Homo sapiens: one gene and its partners. The protein of the gene in region 3 purifies or fractionates together with the protein of the main gene of each other region. This does not show direct contact. Each region holds a gene or a part of one and is shown on either strand. Other genes may lie near its edges. The genes, in order: ZNF185, MYO19 and DHDH.

Evidence for each region.
Region 1: the proteins of DHDH (region 3) and ZNF185 purify together in Homo sapiens (affinity purification with mass spectrometry; one large-scale study listed by BioGRID and IntAct). This does not show direct contact.
Region 2: the proteins of DHDH (region 3) and MYO19 purify together in Homo sapiens (affinity purification with mass spectrometry; one large-scale study listed by BioGRID and IntAct). This does not show direct contact.

Annotation. Positions count from the first base shown.
Region 1 is NC_000023.11:152,963,959-152,967,607, forward strand, and holds part of ZNF185 (zinc finger protein 185), read left to right. Parts: intron 1-1,488; coding exon 1,489-1,569; intron 1,570-3,208; coding exon 3,209-3,280; intron 3,281-3,649. UniProt on the Homo sapiens protein: May be involved in the regulation of cellular proliferation and/or differentiation.
Region 2 is NC_000017.11:36,528,301-36,531,949, reverse strand, and holds part of MYO19 (unconventional myosin-XIX), read left to right. Parts: intron 1-80; exon of another isoform or gene 81-282; intron 283-882; exon of another isoform or gene 883-884; coding exon of another isoform or gene 885-974; intron 975-3,649. UniProt on the Homo sapiens protein: Actin-based motor molecule with ATPase activity that localizes to the mitochondrion outer membrane. Motor protein that moves towards the plus-end of actin filaments. Required for mitochondrial inheritance during mitosis.
Region 3 is NC_000019.10:48,932,180-48,935,928, forward strand, and holds the start of DHDH (trans-1,2-dihydrobenzene-1,2-diol dehydrogenase), read left to right. Parts: upstream 1-1,519; 5' UTR 1,520-1,542; coding exon 1,543-1,632; intron 1,633-2,820; coding exon 2,821-2,932; intron 2,933-3,749.

The DNA of each region.
Region 1 (3,649 bases), on a different chromosome or scaffold from region 3:
GCTATCTAGCAACCTGGGAGATGTTCCTCCGCCACTTCCTCCTTGGCGGTAAAGGACTTGGCTTTTGTTCCATGTTGCTTCCCATTTAGTGCCTTCCCCAGTTTCTAGCAGGCCATTAGCCAAGGGGCCACACAGGACAGTGTTAGTCCCCTAATATAAACTCCCATCTACCGGGCCTAGACATTCCCACACCTCCTTTTTCCTATCTCTGTAAGAGGCTGCAGTGGTACTTCCTAGTGCACTAGTGGATGTGGCTCTGCCATTCATGGGTCCATGCCTGGGAAGCCAGCTCCAGTCCGTGAAGGCCGGGCCTGTGAGGGCATTCCTGTGTTACTGTAAAGGAATACCTGAGGCTGGGACATTTATAAAGGAAAGAGGTTTAATTGGCTCACAGTTTGGCAGGCTGCACAAGCATGGCACCAGCAGCTGCTTGGCTTCTGGCAAAGGCCTCGGGAAGCTTATAATCATGGTGGAAGCCGAAGTGGGAGCAGGACCATCACATGGCACGAGCAGGAACAAGAGTGAGGAAGGGGAGGGCCCGGACTTTGAAACAACCAGATCTTGTGTGAACTAACTGAATGAGAACTCACTTTTCACTAAGGGGATGGTGCTAGCTGTTCATGAGGGATCCCCCCATGATCCCGTCACCTCCCTCCAAGCCCCACCTCCAACACTGGGAATCACATTTCAACATGAGGTTTGTCTGTCTCTGTCACATGCCCACTGCTTCACCTGCATTCCTGGCCACCTGTCAGGGTGCAGGAAGGGATGTCACTGCAGGAAGGCTGCTCAGTGAGGTGTGTGTGTTGGGGGCGGGAGGGGGGCATATCCAAGGGGGCCTCTGCAGACATCAGGTCAGCAGGCTGGAGTGTGCAGCATGGAAATGGGGGAAAATTTGGGGCCATCCTGAGCCCAGCATGATGCAGACCTTGTTTCCAGTCCTGCAGAGGCCAGTCCAGGATGAGGCAACCTCTAGGCCTCTGGACTCTAGGAGTGAGAATGGAGAGGTTAGATGTGAGGTGGAGATTGCACAGTAGCTGAGTACCTTCTGGGAAGTGCTGAGTGGTAAAGACTGACAGTGTAGGATTAAGGCTTGGAGGATATCTTGGTTGTGGGTAGAGGGGAAAGACGACGCAGCCCTAAAGTAGGGGTGGAAAGCCCACAGGACTGAAGTGTAGAAGTATAGAAGCCTGGGGAGAAGATGGGGTCACCGAGGTCTGCATGGAGGAGGACAGCACATTGTCATTGGTTGCAGGAAGCCCCTTTCTGGGGCCCTCAGTCCAAACACAACAAGAGACGCTCATGGCCTGGGATTGTAGTCTGAGTCCACAGCAGTGCCAGTGCCTTTATCCTGGGCCTTCCCATGAGCTCTTTCACTTCCTTCAAACCAGGCTGGGTCTCCCCAGCCCTGAACCACTCCTGTGGGCCAGGCCTGGTTCCCTGGAATCTTCTGGTGTACCTCTGATTTCTTCTGTGCTCCTTCTACAGCAAAGGGATTCTCTTCGTGAAGGAGTACGTGAATGCTAGTGAAGTGTCTTCTGGGAAGCCAGTATCTGCACGCTATAGCAAGTAAGAGCGGGTCCCAAACCCTTCCATGTCGGCCTTCTCCTGCCGGCTCCCATATTCTCATCCCTGCATTTCCAGTTCCTTGTCCAGGACTTGGCTCAGAGTAGCTTCGGGGTAATTGTCGAGTGGATGAGTGATGTAGTTGCCCTCTGATGGGATTGATGCATTTTCTACTGAACTGGGCACCTTTGGGTTCTCCCTTCCGGTGAATTCATCCTGCACACCATTTTCACTGCCATTCTGTTCTGCTTGTCTTTGTTATTTTATTTTGTAAAATGCTGAGAACACCCCTCTTGACAGAGCTGGCAGAGCCCTAGGGACCAACTAGCTCATCCTATTTCTTTTCAGATCACAGAGCTCTTCTCTTCTGCCCTCATGTTCTTTTCTGTCATGCCAGGCTGCCTCATTTGAACACACATGTGACTGCAGTTCCTGATACATGTGTGGCTTTGCTTTTTAATTTTAATTAATTAGTTAATTAATTTTAATTAATTTTTTTTTGAGATGGAGTCTTGCTCTGTTGCCCAGGCTGGAGTGCAGTGGCGCCATCTCAGCTCACCACAACCTCTGCCTCCTGGGTTCAGGCAATTCTCCTGCCTTAGCCTCCCTAGTAGCTGGGATTACAGGCGCCCACCACCATGCCCAGCTAGTTTTTGTATTTTAGTAGAGATGAAGTTTCACCATGTTGGCCAGGCTGGTCTCGAATTCCTGACCTCAAGCAATCCACCTGCCTCGGCCTCCCCTTTTCATTGATCATCTCTTCATTTTCTTGCTTTGTGATGCCATGTGGAGGGGTACTTCCATGTCACCTCGGTGTATTGCTACCTACCACACTGAGGTGAGGTCCCTTAGAATGTTTCTTATGACATGTCATCTCACTGGAGGATTTTAGCAACAGAGAGGAGCATCCTGGCCTTATTTCAGGATTGGGCCTCTGGGGCTTCTGGACTGGCTTTTATTGGTGCTGTGGAATGATGAGCATGGCTGTGGGGGTCAAGTTCAAGCCCCAGCTCAGGCCCCCCTGTTAGGATCACTTCGGACAAGATGTTCAACCTCTCTGAGCTTTGCTTTCACATCTGTAGGCCCTTAGGGTGGTTTTTCTCAACAGCTTATTGAGTTATAATTCACCCTTTAAAGTGTACAGTCCCGAGGTTTTGGTACATTCACAGAGTTATGCAAACATCATTATCCAATTCTGGAACACCTTTGTCTCCCCAAAAAGAAACTCCAAACCCGTCTGCACCCCCTAATTCTACCCCATAACTCAAGCACAGGTATTATACCAGAATGATCCCTTCTTTCTTCTCATTCCCAGTATCTGATTTCTGCTGAGTGGGCTCCTGGTGACTGTCACATTATATCATAGGTGGGGAGGAAAGCTCTGCTGTTTTCCCACTGGTCAGTGGGGTCCCCTTGGCATATACAACCTCAGGAATCCTAGCCACCCAGCCCCGATCATCTCCCTCATTGTGAAAGGTCTCCTTTGCCCCCCCATAGAAGGGCCCTGTGGCACCAAGTCATGAATGACGACTGGCATCGTAGTTATGTCTCAGCTTGTGGCCAAAGGTTAATTAGAAAATTAACTATGATAGTGATTTGGCTCTCATCTCTGCCCTCCTCTCCCCTATCAAACTCCCTGCAGCGTCAGCAGCATTGAGGACTCATTCGCCATGGAGAAGAAGCCTCCATGTGGCAGCACTCCATACTCTGAGAGGTATGTTGACTTTCTTAGCACGGAGCTTGCACTTCTACAGAGGAGAATCAGGGAAGGGAGAGTTCCTGCTGAGTCTGTTTGCTTTTGTCTTCTGCTTTGCAGCCTCCAATCCATTTGCAGAAAGGTGAAGGACACTACCGTAGGGTGGTGCTTCCCTTGTTGGGATATCACACTTGTGACAACTAAAGCCTTTGAATTGAGCTAAGACTAGAGGGTAGATACCAGCGGTGACTGAGAAGGGAAGTGGTGGCATCTGACAACCCAGAGGACTCGTGTCAGCAGGAGGGGCCCTTCAGATTAGAACCTAATCAATCACTTCATTAACTTGCAAATCTAACCAGAAGTAAAAATAAAATGACTACAAAAGAG
Region 2 (3,649 bases), on a different chromosome or scaffold from region 3:
TACCCATATCATCCTTCATGTGTAACTCTTGGTCCTGAGAGAGTGCCAGTACTTATTTGCTGACTTTTTATTTTACCAAGTGTTGCCAGGCACTGGGCTGAGGCAGATGTTGAGGTTGGTGCTTGCCCTCAAGGAGCTCAGAGTCTAGTGGAGTCTTGGGTAGGTAAGTGCCTGACATCAGCAAGGTAGCAGCCAGGTGTGGGGCCTGCCAGCATCAAGGGAGCCATAGTAGACACTGCAGCTTGACCTTCCAGCCATATGGCTCCTGGAACAGGTTTGAAGGTAAGAAGTGGGCAAAACAGTTGACTGCTCTGGGCTTTTTTCTTGCTTATTTTTAAACTTTTTTTTTCTCTTATTAAAAAAAAGGTATATCAATACAATGGAATAAAGCAAGTTACACAAAAATATAATACTTTTCAATGTTTTTAAAGTATGTAGGGGAAAAAACCTATGATATTCTCTAAAATATTGGTTATTTCTGGGTAGTATGATTATGGATTTTTATGCTCCTTTTGCTTATCTCTATTTTCCAATTTTTTTTTTTTTTTTTTTTTTGAGATGGAGTCTCACCCTGTCATCCAGGCTGGAGTGTAGTGGCTTGATCTTGGCTCACTGCAATCTCTGCCTCCCAGGTTCATGCTATTCTCCTGCCTCAGCCTCCCGAGTAGTTGGGACTACTGGTGCTGGCCACCACGCCTGGCTAATTTTTTGTATTTTTTAGTAGAGATGGGGTTTCACCGTGTTAGCCAGGATGGTCTCGATCTCCTGACCTCGTGATCCACCCACCTCGGCCTCCCAAAGTGCTGGGACTACAGGCGTGAGCCACCGCGCCCAGCCTCCAAATTTTTTTTAATAATTTTTGTTTATTTATTTTTATTTTAGAGATGGAGTCTCACTCTGTAGACAAGGCTGGTCTCAAACTCCTGACCTCAAGTGATCCGTCTGCCTCAGCCTCCCAAAGTGCTTTTACAGGGGTGAGCCACCGCACCCAGCCGTGAGACCCTGTCTCTTAAATAAATAAATAAATAAGGCCAGGCACGGTGGCTCATGCCTGTAATCCCAATACTTTGGGAGGTCGAGGCGGGCAGATCACCTGAGGCCAGGAGTTCAAGACCAGTCTGGCCAACATGGCAAAACCCCATTTCTACTAAAAATACAAAAACTAGCCAGGTATGGTGGTGCATGCCTGTGATCCCAGTTACTTGGGTGGCTGAGGCATGAGAATCACTTGAACCTGGGAGACAGTGGTTGCAGTGAGCCGAGATTGTGCCACTGCACTCCAGCCTGGGCGATAGAGCGAGACTCTGTGTCAAAAAAAAAAAAAAATACAAAAGCCACTTTTACGCGTGCCTGTAGTCCCAGCTACACAGGAGGCTGAGGCAGGAGAATGGCGTGAACCCGGGAGGCGGAGCTTGCAGTGAGTCGAGATCGCGCCACTGCACTCCAGCCTGGGCGACAGAGCGAAACTCCGTCTCAAAAAAAAAAAAAAAAAAAAAAAGCCACTTTTAGAAGAAGAATAGCTAACCCCTTTTGGCAGATTCCAGATGGCCTTTCTAAATCCTTCGTGTGTTTTTGTGCTTGTGAGTATCTGTGAGGTAGGTACCATTATCCCATTTTACAGAAAAGAACTTTAAATAATTATTTAGAGACAGGGTCTCACTTTGTTGCCCAGTGCAGTGATATCCCCATAGCTCACTGTAGCCTCGACCTCCTGGGCTGAAGCAACCCTCCTGCCTCAGCCTCTAGAATAGCTGGGGTTACAGGCACATGCCATAATGCCCAGCTAATTTTTAAATATTTTTTATAGAGACAGGGTCACCTTGGCCTCCCTAAGTGCTGGGATTACAGGCTTAAGCCACTATGGCCAGCTGGAAATTTTTCTATTTTTATTTTTTACTTTAGAGACAAGGTCTTGCTCTGTTGGCCAGGCTAGAGTGCAGCGGTACAATCATAACTCATTGCAGCCTCGAACTTTTAGGCCCAAGTGGTTCTTCTACCTAAGCCTCCCAAGTAGCTGGGATTACAGGGACCAGATGAGGAGAATTGAGGCAGAAAGAGATTAAGAAATTAACATAAGAGTATATAACTGTAAGAGATAGAGTCAGGATTCAGAGCCAGACAACTAACTTTCAAGTCCAGGTACTTGATCACTATACTCAGATGCCTCTCTGGTTGGATCAGAACTCTTCATAAATTGTGTCTGTGTTTGTGAATGGTTTGTGTAGTGGTGGTTTTTTTTTCCCCTTCATAAAAGGAGAGGGATATGCATAGATATAGCTGTGCTCTGACCTCCGCAGTTACTCTGGAGGCCAAGAGCCTACCTTGTGCATTATAGTGGGCCCAAAGTTCAGAGAACAGGCAACAGTTTTGGAAGAAATGCATTACTGGGCCTCTTGGAGGAAATTTGCCACCATGGCTTATTTCTATGAGAGATTTGAAATTTTAGGCTCACCATTCTCATTGGAAATTCACCTGTTGTATCACAGACCTCTTCCTTCAAAAGCACATTTCAGCAAGATACCTGTCTTCAACCCCCACTCTGTCTTTCCTGCATCCCCAAAGGAGACAGTAGGAGAAATGGGACCACAGGAGGAAGTGGAGGGATGATACATCAAGAATGGGCAAAGGAAGATAGGGTGACTCATGCCTCTAGTCCCAATTACTCAGGAAGCTGAGGCAGAAGGATCACTTGAGCTCAGGAGTTGGAGGCTGCAGTGAGATATGATCATGCCACTGCACTGCAGCCTGGGTAGCAGAGCAAGACTCCATCTCTTAAAAAAGAAAGGAAAAAAAAAAGATAGGCAAGGGAGGAGAAAGGACCTGTTCCCTTGGTGCTTATTCTTGACCTCAGACAGCCGTCTGAGCCAGGCTTTCTCTCAAGCAGACTCGGGCCAAGGGAACCAATTCATTAGCCAGCCTAAATTTAAGCCACAAAAGGCAGGTGATGAAGACATGGGGCTACCTCTCTCAGAAGGTACAGCTGTTTTACATCAAAAGCTGAACTGTCTCTTCCCAAAAAGGCCTAACCCATGGTTCTTTTCCTTTGCAACATTCCTATAGCCTTATTTCTAATAAGGCTAGTAGCCTGGAAGTGCTACTTGCAAGTGGCCGGAGCTCTTGGCAGAAGAGATAGCATTTGTTGAGTACATGCTGTATGCCGGGCACTGACTAAATGCTTTGTATATCTCTTCTTTTCTTCCCAATAACCTTGTCAGTTGAGTTTATTTTCCTTTATTTACGAATAAACAAACTGTGACTCAAAGAGGGTAACTTACCCAGGCTCACAGGGCTACTAAGAGGCAGAACTGAAATTTGAACCCAACCAGACTATGATACCAGAGTCTCCTTCTACTATACAGGTTCCCACCCTTCTGTAGCTGCCAGCTGTTTTGAGTACCAGCTGTCGCGGCCTTCATGTTTTTTGGTTTTTTTTTTTTTTGAGACAGAGTCTTGCTCTGTCGCCCAGGCTGGAGTGCAGTAGCACAATGTTGGCTCACTGCAAGCTCCGCCTCCCGGGTTCACGCCATTCTCCTGCCTCAGCCTTCCGAGTAGCTGGGACTACAGGTGCCCGCCACCATGCCTGGCTAATTTTTTGAATTTTTTTTAGTAGAGACGGGGTTTCACCGTGTTAACCAGGATGGTCTCGATC
Region 3 (3,749 bases):
CTCATGCTTGTAATCCCAGCACTTTGGGAGGCCAAGGCAGGCAAATCGCAAGGTCAGGAGATCGAGACCATCCTGGCCAACATGGTGAAACCCTGTCTCCACTAAAAATAAAAAAAATTAGCTGGGCATGGTGGAGGGCGCCTGTGGTCCCAGCTACTCAGGAGGCTGAGGCAGGAGAATCACTTGAACCAGGGAGGCGGAGGTTGCAGTGAGCTGAGATCACACCACTGCACTCCAGCCTGGGGATAGAGTGAGACTCCGTCTCAAACAAACAAACAAACAAATAGCGGTAAGTGGGGCACATGCCTATACTCCCAGCTACTCAGGAGGCTGAGGCGGGAAGATAGCTTGAGCCCAGGAGTACAAGGCTGCTGTGAGCTATTATCACGCCACTGCAGTCCAGCTAGGTAACAGAGTGAGACCCTATCTCTAAAATAATTAATAAATAAAACAAAATAATTAGCCAGGTGTAGTAGCCAGTAGCTACTTTGGGTCCCAGCTACTGTAGTCCCAGGTACTAGGGTGGCTAAGGCAGGAGCTAATTCCTTGAGCTAAGGAATTTGAGGCTGCAGTGAGCTATGATTGTGCCACTGCACTCCTTCCTGGGCGACAGAGCGAGACCCTATATCAATAATAATTATAATAATACAGTATATTTTACATAATAGACCATAGAGCTCAATGAATCCTCCTCACAACCCTATGTAGGTAGATGTTATCATGATCTCTGCTTTCCAGAATAGAAAAGTGAGGACCAGAGAGGGCGACCTCTTGTCCAAAAGCAATACAGCCAAGAAGGGGCAAGGAGGGTTTTGAAACCAGTCGGCCAGGCTCTGGGGCTCCTAACAAGCAAAGCAGCCTGGTTTCTAAAACTATAGCTTCTGGAAGCAGCCAATTCACAGGTCTTTACCTCCTGACTGTGAGACCTCCAAAAAATGACCAGGGATCTTGGAGTCTGTTTCCCCCTTTGTGAACTGGGGACAATAGAAGCTACTTCCCAGGTCTGCGGGGAGAAATTAGGAACGAAGAAGGTAAAGCGCAGAGCTGAGGAGCTGGTCTACAGGTGCTCTATACATATTAGTAATAATTATTAAGTTTGCTGTTACAATCCTCTCTCTCTCTGTGAACAACCCCTAATGATGCGTGGCTTTGAGAGCAAAAAAGTCAGGGCAAAGTTTTGCCACAAAGTCCAGAGGGCAAGACATTAAATCTAACTCTCAAGGATTGGTGTTGGCAAGAAAGCAAACCTCTCCTCCCCACGCTGTCCTTACCCCGCGTATCCGACGAGCCTAAAGTCATAGGTAAGAGATCTGTAGAAGCGACGTCAAGGTGTGGTTCCCTCTGTAAGGCGGAGCTAAACGGTGCATTCGCCCAGCGGGGAAGCTAGAACTAAATGACCGCTCTGCCGACTGGAGCCAACGAGAATCGGCGTAGGCGCAATACGGGCGGAGGATGGGGACCCGCCCCCGGGGTGGGCGGGGCGTCAGGTACTTAATTCGCGCCTGGAGGGACCGAAGGTGCCGAGGGCTCCGCATCGCAACCATGGCGCTGCGCTGGGGCATCGTGTCTGTCGGCCTCATCTCCAGCGACTTCACAGCCGTGCTGCAGACGCTGCCTCGCTCTGAGCACCAGGTCTGCCCGCCCTCCGGATTCTGGGGAAGAGGAGGCGGGGGGCGGGACTCCAGAGTCTAAAGGAGGAGGGAGTTTAGGGTTCAGGACTAGTGAGTGGGTCGTCATTGCAGTGAAACGTCTGTTTCCTTGCTACCTCCTTCTCCATCTCTGTTCTGCAAACCTGTGGGGAAAAGAAAGATCAGATTGTTACTGTGTCTACGTAGAAAATGAAGACATAAGAAACTCCATTTTGAACTGTACTAAGAAAAATTGTTTCTGCTTTGAGATGCTATTAACCTGTAACTTTAGCCCCAACCGTGTGCTCACAGAAACATGTCCTGTATTGAATCAAAGTTTAATGGATTTAGGGCTTTGCAGGATGTGCCTTGTTAACAATATGTTTGCAGGCAGTATGCTTGGTAAAAGTCATCGCCATTCTCCATTCTCTATTAACCAGGGGCACATTGCACTGCGGAAAGCCGCAGGGACCTCTGCCCAAGAAAGCCTGGGTATTGTCCAGGGTTTCCCCCCACTGAGAAAGCCTGAGATATGGCCTCGTGGGAAAGGAAGACCTTACATCCCCTAGCCCGACACCAGTAAAGGGTCTGTGCTGAGGAGGAGTAGTGAAAGAGGGAGGCCTCTCTGCAGTTGAGATAAGAGGAAGGCTTCTGTCTCCTGCTCTCCCTGGGAATGGACTGTCTCAGTGTAAAGCGGACCATTCCCATTCCTTCTATTCTGAGATAGGAGAAAACCTACCTGTGGCTGGAGGCGAGATATGCTGGCAGTGATACTGCTCTGTTACTCTTTGCTACACTGAGATGTTTGTGTAAAGTGAAACATAAATCTAGCCTACGTGCACATCCGGTCACAGCACCTTTCCTTGAACTTATTCATGATACAGATTCCTTTTCTACATAGACACAGTAACAATCTGATCTCTCTTTCTTTTCCCCACACAAACCTGAGTGTCTTGAGGTTTGGAAAGGCCTTGATGTAAGCTACTATGAAGATAATTTCAATATTGGGGGATTTAATAACGGCTTTCCCCCAGATCTCTCTTTCCCAGGGCCCAAATGTCCAGCCCCCGTCATCTCTTCCCCCAGGACCACGTCTCCCCTTCCCCTGGCCAGAGCCTCCTCCTTTGCCTCCCTTCCACCCAGTTTCCACGCCTGCCTCAGCCCCTCAAATCCGATTCTTGTGCCCCTCCAGGTGGTGGCGGTGGCGGCCCGCGATCTGAGCCGTGCGAAGGAGTTTGCACAGAAACACGACATCCCCAAGGCCTACGGCTCCTATGAGGAGCTGGCCAAGGACCCGAGCGTGGGTGAGTGGCGAGGGCGATGGGGGTGCTGGCCGCCGCCCCTGGAGCGGTGCCCCCTGGCTGCCCCCTGGGAGATGCAAGGCTCCTCAGGATGGTCCAATCCCTTTGGGTTCCATAAAGACCTTTGGCTGGGAGGAGAACTATAAAACGGGCTTGGTCTGGGACTGGCTGTCTAGTAGGTGTTAAACTACACTTAGCGTTCGAGACCAGCCTCGGCAACGTAGCAAGACCCAATCTCTACAAAAAATAACAATAAAAATAAATTAGCCAGGTATGGTGGCACGCACCTGTAATCCCAGCTACTGGGGAGGCTGAGGCAGGAGAATCACTTGAATCCGGGAAGCAGAGGTTGAAGTGAGCCAAGATCGCGCCACTGCACTCCAGCCTGGGCGACAGAGTGAGACTTGGTCTTAGAAATAAATAAATAGGCCGGGCGCGGTGGCTGACGCCTGTAATCCTAGCACTTTGGGAGGCCAAGGCGGGCAGATCATGAGGTCCGGAGATGGAGACCATCCTGGCTAATACGGTGAAACCGCATCTCCACTAAAAATACAAAAAATTAGCCGGGCATGGTGGCGGGCGCCTGTAGTCCCAGCTACTCGGGAGGCTGAGGCAGGAGAATGGCGTGAACCTGGGAGGTGGAGCTTGCAGTGAGCCGAGATCGCGCCACTGCACTCCAGCCTGGGCGAAGAGTGAGACTCCGCCTCCAAAAAAAAAATTAATTAATTAATTAAAAATTTTAAAAAAGAGAGCGAGAATGGCGAGAGGTAACAGCCCCTTCCTAAGGACAGCTCCCTAAGGGAGACAGGGGTGTGACCGA